Homo sapiens: one gene and its partner. The protein of the gene in region 2 interacts with the protein of the main gene of each other region in a pairwise test. Each region holds a gene or a part of one and is shown on either strand. Other genes may lie near its edges.

Evidence for each region.
Region 1: the proteins of NREP (region 2) and IGSF21 interact in a two-hybrid assay, tested with the Homo sapiens proteins (one large-scale study listed by BioGRID and IntAct).

Annotation. Positions count from the first base shown.
Region 1 is NC_000001.11:18,373,043-18,376,859, reverse strand, and holds part of IGSF21 (immunoglobulin superfamily member 21 precursor), read right to left. Parts: intron 551-3,817; coding exon 465-550; intron 61-464; coding exon 1-60. UniProt on the Homo sapiens protein: Involved in synaptic inhibition in the brain. Selectively regulates inhibitory presynaptic differentiation through interacting with presynaptic NRXN2.
Region 2 is NC_000005.10:111,736,391-111,740,207, forward strand, and holds part of NREP (neuronal regeneration-related protein), read right to left. Parts: intron 3,337-3,817; exon of another isoform or gene 1,914-3,336; intron 1-1,913. UniProt on the Homo sapiens protein: May have roles in neural function. Ectopic expression augments motility of gliomas. Also promotes axonal regeneration. May also have functions in cellular differentiation.

The DNA of each region.
Region 1 (3,817 bases), on a different chromosome or scaffold from region 2:
GTCCAGGAGGCGGCTCCCAACCCGCGTCCACGTGAACATGGGCTCCGGGAAGACTTCGTTCTGTTGGCCAGATCAGGGGAGAGGTGGGTCACAGGAGGGCCCATTCTGCCAGATCAGCAAGGGGTCAGGGGCTGCCTGGCCAGGGGTGGCACAGCATTCTCATCCGACGGGTTAGGAGTGGCTGCCCTGAACTCCAGGAGGAGGAGGAGTCTGGGACTTAAGAGAATGTCTCGTTGAAGAGCTAGGTTTACTCTGAGTTCTAGAAGGTGTGAAACATGCATGCACCTCTTTGCCATTCCTCATGGGAGCTGATTCTCCCAATTACACATTGGGAAACTGAAACCCACTGGATGTGGCTGGGGATCAAAGGAAGAGTGTTAGAGAGGACTGCCAGGAATGCTGGTGCTGGGTCGGTGCCTCTACCACCTCCCACCACCCTCCCAGATGCTCAGAGAGAGGCTGACCTGAAACCCATGGACCAGAATCCTCACTGTGTCCCCTACCCGGGCTCTGCTGGGCGTCATCACAATTTTGGGTCCTTTGGGGGCAACTGTAGGGAGAGAAAGGCCAGGTCAGAGAGAGTAAGGAAAGGAGGGACAGGGTACATGGAAGAGAAAGTTCTAGTCTAGCAATCAACATCCTTGGGATCAGCTGCTTCTGTGAGAAGCTCAGTGTGCTCATTCATTCATTCACTCATTCACAGCTGCATTCATTCAGACATATTCCCTAAGCCCATGCAATGAATCAGATGCTCTCTAGGACCTGGGGAGTCAAGGGTGTATATAGGACATGATTCCTGCTCTTGGGGGGTTCACACATCAGTGGGGAAGAAAGACAAACAACAGACAAGTACAAGCCAGTGCCATGAGGGACAAGATCAGAGAGGCCCAGTGGACAGTGGGGTCAGGGAGGGAAACGTACCTGGGGCACGTGCTACTAGGCTGCTGAGGGGGAGCAGCCTGCACCAGCAGCCAGACTTGAGGTACCCCCAACTCCCACCCACGCTACCCCCTTGGGAGGTGCGTTTCTGGTGTCATCAGCCCCATTGTCCAGTTGAGTTAACTGGGCCTCAGAGGGTCATGAAGTGATTTGCCAAAGGTCACACCTTGAGGAGAGCCAAGATCAAGGTGCGGGTCTCCTACTCCTGAGTCAGTGCTCTTTCTAACAGGTTAATCTTCCCAGTGGGATTTTTCTAGAACCTCTGGGTAGGGGTGGACATGGTGTGGGAAGAAAGACCACCTCCTTCCTTGTGCACAGCCTCCCTGCCTCTCTTCCTCACTTTCTTGTATCACCTCTTATTCAGTCCCTTTGTATCTCTGAGCTTGAAAGCCAAGATGCCCAAAGGCATGGCTATCCTCTGAACGACACCTGAGAATATCAGGGATGGAGGAGCCACTCGGGATCATTGGGTCTGTTCCCTTCATTTCAGCTGACAAACAGAGCTCCACGGATAATGTAGAGGCTTATCCAAGGTCACTCACAGAGCCAGTTAACCATGTTTCCTGACCTTCTCGCCAGCACTCTTTCCCCCAGATTCATTCATTCACTCACTCACTCACTCAACAGTAATTATGGAGCCAGCCATTTGGAGCAGAGCTGAGGATATGGTGGTGAACAAGACCCAGTGCCTGCTGACATGGAGCTCCCACTTCAGTAGGGGTGAGAGTTCATAAGCAAACAAACACATACGCAAAACAGGATGAGAGTGACAGTGCTCCATGCAGATCACTAGACCAAGGGAGGGGGCTCAGAATTGGTGGGTGAAATCCTCAGATAGTGGTCAGGGTGCCTCTTCCAAGGAGGTGACATTTAAGCTGAGCTGTGAAGCTCACGAGGCATATTCCAGGCACAGGGAACAGCCAGGGCATGGGACAGAGGCAGGTCAGGGAGGGAAGGGGGTTGGGAGACAGATCCCATTGAGTTTCCAGGGCCGGAGGAAGGGGTGAGGGTTTTGTTTGGTACTCTATGCTTTGTGCTACTCTGTGTAAACATCTTCTAAGGGTGGAAAAGGTTTGTCCTGAGGCCCTGGGGCTGCCCTGGGATTACCCCCACCTTTCCTTGCTGGTCCCCGGACCTCTCTTTCTGACGCAAAGCTCTTAGAACGGAAATCAGAGCAGTTGGCAGATGTGGGTGGCCTCCCAGGCACTGCCAATTTCATTCTCTGAGAATGAAATCAAAGGACTATTAATTAAACCATAAGCAAGACATCTGAAATGCCACATGGGTCTAGGGAAGCATCCGTGGGAAGAGCAGGGCTTGCACCAAGGAGAGGGAATCGCTGGGAAGGGAAGGGCTGGTTCTACAGCTGCATCTGCCAGCCAGTCGTGTGGAAGGGCCACTGGCCTGGGATACCTGCGAGCTGAGTTCTAATCTGTTCTTTGCGCCCTTGGATGAGTGGCTCCCCTTCGCATTCCCAAGTGCACCATGGGAACAATGATACCCCTTGCCTAACACGCGGGGCCGTTAGGAACATCAGGCAGTGGCAGGTTTGATGGCTAACATTTGTTTAGCGAGTCCTAAGAGCCAGGACCTACATGAAGTGCCATATGCATAATCTCATTTAGCCTTCCAGCCTTTGAGATTGTCGCCATAAGGAAATGAAGGCTCAGGGAGCCCAAGTAAGTTTCTGGGTTTTAAAATGAACCCTCAAGTGCTGTAGACATCGTTTTGCAGATGGGAAACCAGGCCTAGGGCAGTCTGCCCCTGGGTAATCTTGGGGGCTCTTTACGTTCTTCAGGTGCTGCTGGGGCGGCATTGTTGGCTGCAGCCAGGAGAGGGCGCTGAAGGGCATCCCGGTCCTGGAGAAGGCTAGAGCCCTGGAGGGCAGGGGCAGACACCTTTCCCTTCTAGGTTAGATTCCTCACTGCCCTGCTTTCTAAAGGGCTTGCCTTACTCCTTCAGGCCCGGGCCTGGGCCTGCTGGTTCTAAGGGAAGAAGGAACCAACTTTTCTCAGGTGTCAAACATGCGCTAGACTCCATTTTAGGCATTTTAGGACAGTCACACCATTCTGGTACTTACGAGGCAGGTTATCACGAAACCCATTGTGCAGGTCATAGAACTGGCCCTCCAGGGGGGCAGTGGCTTGTCCAAGGTCATGCTATAGGAAGTACCAGTAACAAGACGTGATAGCACATAGGGCTTCAGAGGGAGTCTCAGAGCCCAAGGGTGGAGGTGGGGCAGAGATGGGTGCCTTCTTCCACCCAGGGCACCCCGGCTCCTGGGCTCCTGTGTGCATCTGATCCTGAGGGGCACAGAGGGTGGGCAGAAGAGGGGTCTGGTCCTCCCTCGCTGCTTTCAAGCTCTATCCTGGCAGCTGCCACTAGACAAGTGCGTTTGCAGCCGATGGTCCCTGACTCCCTCTTTTACTGCTGTGTTGAGATGTTGCTTCTGGAAGCCAAGCCTGCTGCTGTCAGCCTCCTCACTCCTTCCACCCTCAGCCTCCTGACACTCCGAGCCTGGCCCATTAGCAGCTCCAGACAATCAAAACCTACACCCCCTTGCCTGCTTCTAGACCACAATGGCTGAGAGTGCCCGAAAGGAATGCTCTTAGTCTCCGGACTTTCCTGCCTCTCAAGCCCTGGACGTAGAGAAAGAGCAGGAGTCCAGAGACCCAGGATTGACACCTAGCCCTCTACTTTCTGGCTGCATGACTTGGATGAGTCATTTCAACTTGTTGGGCTTCAGTTTTCTAACTTGTAAATGGGGAGAATAGGCTACCACCCTGCTTGAGGAAATACTCTGAAAATGACAATGGAGGAGGGAGATAAGACTGCAATGTGAAATGTAAAGTGATGTCTATCTGCTCAGGGAATGAAA
Region 2 (3,817 bases):
AGCAGAGTGAAATTAGGTAAGATTCCCTCCAGATCAGATTCTCCAAATTCTGCAATAAATAAGCCTCACATTTAATAAACAACAATTAAGAGTCACACCTCATTAACAGATTAACAAACAGACTTAGATGTGTGTTTACATTTTGGTTTTGGAAGCCGTAATTGAGGTAACCTAATCATTGAGTTGACTGTAATGCTTGGTATACCCCGATCAATCCATTTTGTCAGGGAATCTAGGGTAGGAAATGTAGATGGCTAAGTGTGTTCACTCTTCGGAATAATTGAACAGTAACTAACTATCTTTGCTCTACACCAGTGACATTTGTAGCACATCCTAGCTTACAAAGCAATTTTGCATACATTACTTAATTTGTCCTGATGATAAGCCAATAATATTGGTCTTATCATTAAACAAATGAAGAAATTGAAACTCAAAAAGGTCGACTTGCCCCAAGTCACACAGGTAGTGTAGGGTAGGACTGAAACTCACACTAGGTTTCCAGATTCTAAACTTCAGTTCCTTCCACTATCCTGCTGCCCTCGCATTATCCCAGAATGCAAATCGCCTACCACCACTCCCTCAAAATTATACCAGTCCACAGCCGCCACCCACGTTTGGGTCTTAAAGAGAGCTCATTCTGCAAGAGCTAGAACTATTTTCTTTTTGGACTGGGTCTGTTTTCTGAGCCATGTGGTTCCCCTCACCCCAACCACCTTACTTTTCCACATATTCCTCTCCTGTGCCCAGCTCCTTCAGAAAGTAATCCACCATCTGCCTTGTTTGGGACAAGCAGCCACTTCTGACATTTCCTTTATCCAGGAATGGGTGAAGAAAACAAAATAATCTCAAATACACAAGCTTTTTTCAGACTTATAACAAAGTCACAGCACACAAAAGCCCAGTTTGGGCTCAACTTTAGGGGACCCCAAGTTTGAATCTACTGTTAAATTCACTTCATATAAATGGATATAAAGTGATTACATTTCTATATTACCACTTTAAAAATCATATTTCAAGTACAGTCTTAAAATATTAGTGAGAAATTAAGTTCTGTTGGAAACCAAAAACGTTGATAAAAGTACATGTAAAAACTTTGTAGGCACAGGAAGCAAAGAAAAGCAAGGTCAGGTAAGTATTGTCATTCTTGCGTTCTTGTGCTTTTCTGGGATATTCCATTTTAACGAAATGACACTGCTTTAACATTTAACTTCTAAGCATCATTACTAAAACCACCAAAGTCTAATTTGTAGGGGAAAATAGCTTGCCTTTCAGAAATTATTACACCTATTCTAACAATCTGTTGTTCTAAGAACTCTCCATTTGCTAAAAAAAAAAAAAACAAAAACAAAAACAAAAAAAAAGCCAATGACTTTTGCCAAAGAACTTGGGAACATGAATATCTGACAGCAAAACACACATGACTAAGGAAACTTTCTCCCTTACTTCATATTTGTTACACTGACCAAGGCTTTTTTTTTCACTATTAGGCATTTTTAGCACATTAGGCATTTTTTAGTATTTGAATCATCAAGTAATCATTGTATACTTTTAGAAAAATGAACGTTGCTTTGGCCTTCTGGTAGTTTTCCAATCTCCTTCAAAGTCAGAACCTTAAGCCAAAAATGGCAGGGACAGAGGAGTCTCAGTTACATTCTTAAAACCTGCTTGGCTGGTATCTAAGAACTCAGCATATCCCTAGACATAGTACCTAAAGGAGATATTTAAACTTTTCATTTTTTTAAGCACAGCTAGTTTTAAGAAACCGTGGTAAATTACTGGAAACAAATATGATCTATCTGCATTACAGCATTGTTCTTTCTTATACCTGCAGTATTTTGAGACTCTAAAGTGAAGAGCTTAAGAGAAAAGATCTATTGACAATCATTAATTACCTTTGCTCTCAAATGATTCAGACCTGACCTTTGGTATTCCGCAAGGGCCTGAACTTCCATTCCATTCCCAGTGCTGGATGTGGAGAATGGGTGATCCCAAGCAACAATCATTTGCCTTTCTGTCAAAAGCTGTCTCGGTTTAAATGTACTGTATTTTCTTTGCCTCTTCTTCTCATCGGAACATGTTCTAGTCTACTCGCCAGGTGCTACTTCTGGCAGTCAGAAATAGTGCCACTTTTCAACTTCAAGTTTCTTACCAACCTTTTTTGCATTCATGCAGCAAGAGTTCATGAAATAGCTGCAAAGTGCTGGACACTGTTAGGTTGTGGGAATTGCAAGAGAAACAGAGTTTCTGCCTTCTAGATGCTCACGTCTGGGGGTGGGGCAGGTACAGCAGGGGTGATCAATCCACAAAAATTTACTTTTAAAAATGTGTTATGGGCTGACTTGTATCACCTCAAAATTCATATGGGGAAGTCCTAACCACCAATACCTCAGAATGTGATTGTATTTGGAAACAGGATCTTTGCAGAGGCAATTAAGTTAAAATAAGGACATCATCAGGGTGGGCCCTAATCTCAAGTGACCCATGTCCTTCTAAGAAGAGATTAGGACACAGATACACAGAGGAAAGACCATATGAAGACACAGGGAGAAGACAGCCATCTACAAGCCCAGAAGGGAGGCCTCAGAAGAAACCAACCCTGCCAACATCTTGATCTCAGACTTCCAGCGTCCAGATTGTTAGAAAATAAATTTCTGTTGTGTAAGCTGCCCAGTCTGTGGCACTTTGTTATGGCAGCCCTCGCAAACTAAACACAGTGTGCTTTTTAAGGGCAACAACAAAAAAGAAATATATAGGTTAAGTCAAATGTAATAGCTGCTGGAACATCTATCAACAGACTAAACAACAAACAAAACCAACATTTAGCATAATATCCAGTAGTGCTGTCAACAAAGGAAATGGGGGTGGCAGTGAGCACATCTGGGAGGGCATTTGATGGCTGTCAGAATCAGCCAAGGAAGATGATAGAAGGGTGAGGGATAAGTGCAGAATAAGCTCCATGCAGGCAAGTGGCCCTGTAGCCAGGTCTCCCTGCAGCTCCTAGGGGCCACAGCAGTAACAAGACCCACATGAACCCATGAGTTTCTGTGCCCTCAGTTTTCTAACTAGTTCAGAATATTAGGAACTGACAATGACCCTATCACTGAAGCTTTTGAGTGCTGATAATATGAGGGTCAGAAAACTGGTAAGCTGATCCATCTATCTAGAGTCCATCTGTGCTTGCTGAACTGTAAAGCTGCCCATTCTTCTTGGTGCTCATCAACTGACACTCCAAACATGGACACGTGGCTGATACTGCATTCCATTCATTCATTGTCTGAATTCAAGTTTGTGTTTTTCATGAAGGCCAATTAAATTAACTTTCTTTTTGACACTTCATTGAATTCTCTATTGTTGTTTCGGTGGTTTGCATCTAGAAAATTTAAGCGTTCTGGGTATGGGAATACCTCAAAACTGTTGTTTCATTAAACAAACCAAAGTTTGCATTAATCTTCACAAAAAGTATGTCTTCTTTTAAAACTGCTTTTTCCATGTATACAATAAACAATTGTTTTTGCCCAAATAAAATCCTCAAAACCCTCTAGAATACTATTCTTCCAGAAGTCTATTAGAAAATCAGAAAAGCAAATCGTACCTTCAACAATTGAGAAAACAAAAATGCTAGTTAAAAAAAAAAAAGTAGAGGGAAGGAAAATTTTGTTACTTTAATTTGGAGAATATGCAACAGTTTTGTTTGAATTCTGGGGAAGTTTGAGTGTTTATACTTGTCACTGAATATATTGGTTAATGCATCTTTTTCTATGATGCTATATTTATCTCACTGACAATTAGGTTGAAAAACAACAGAACGTCATAAAGA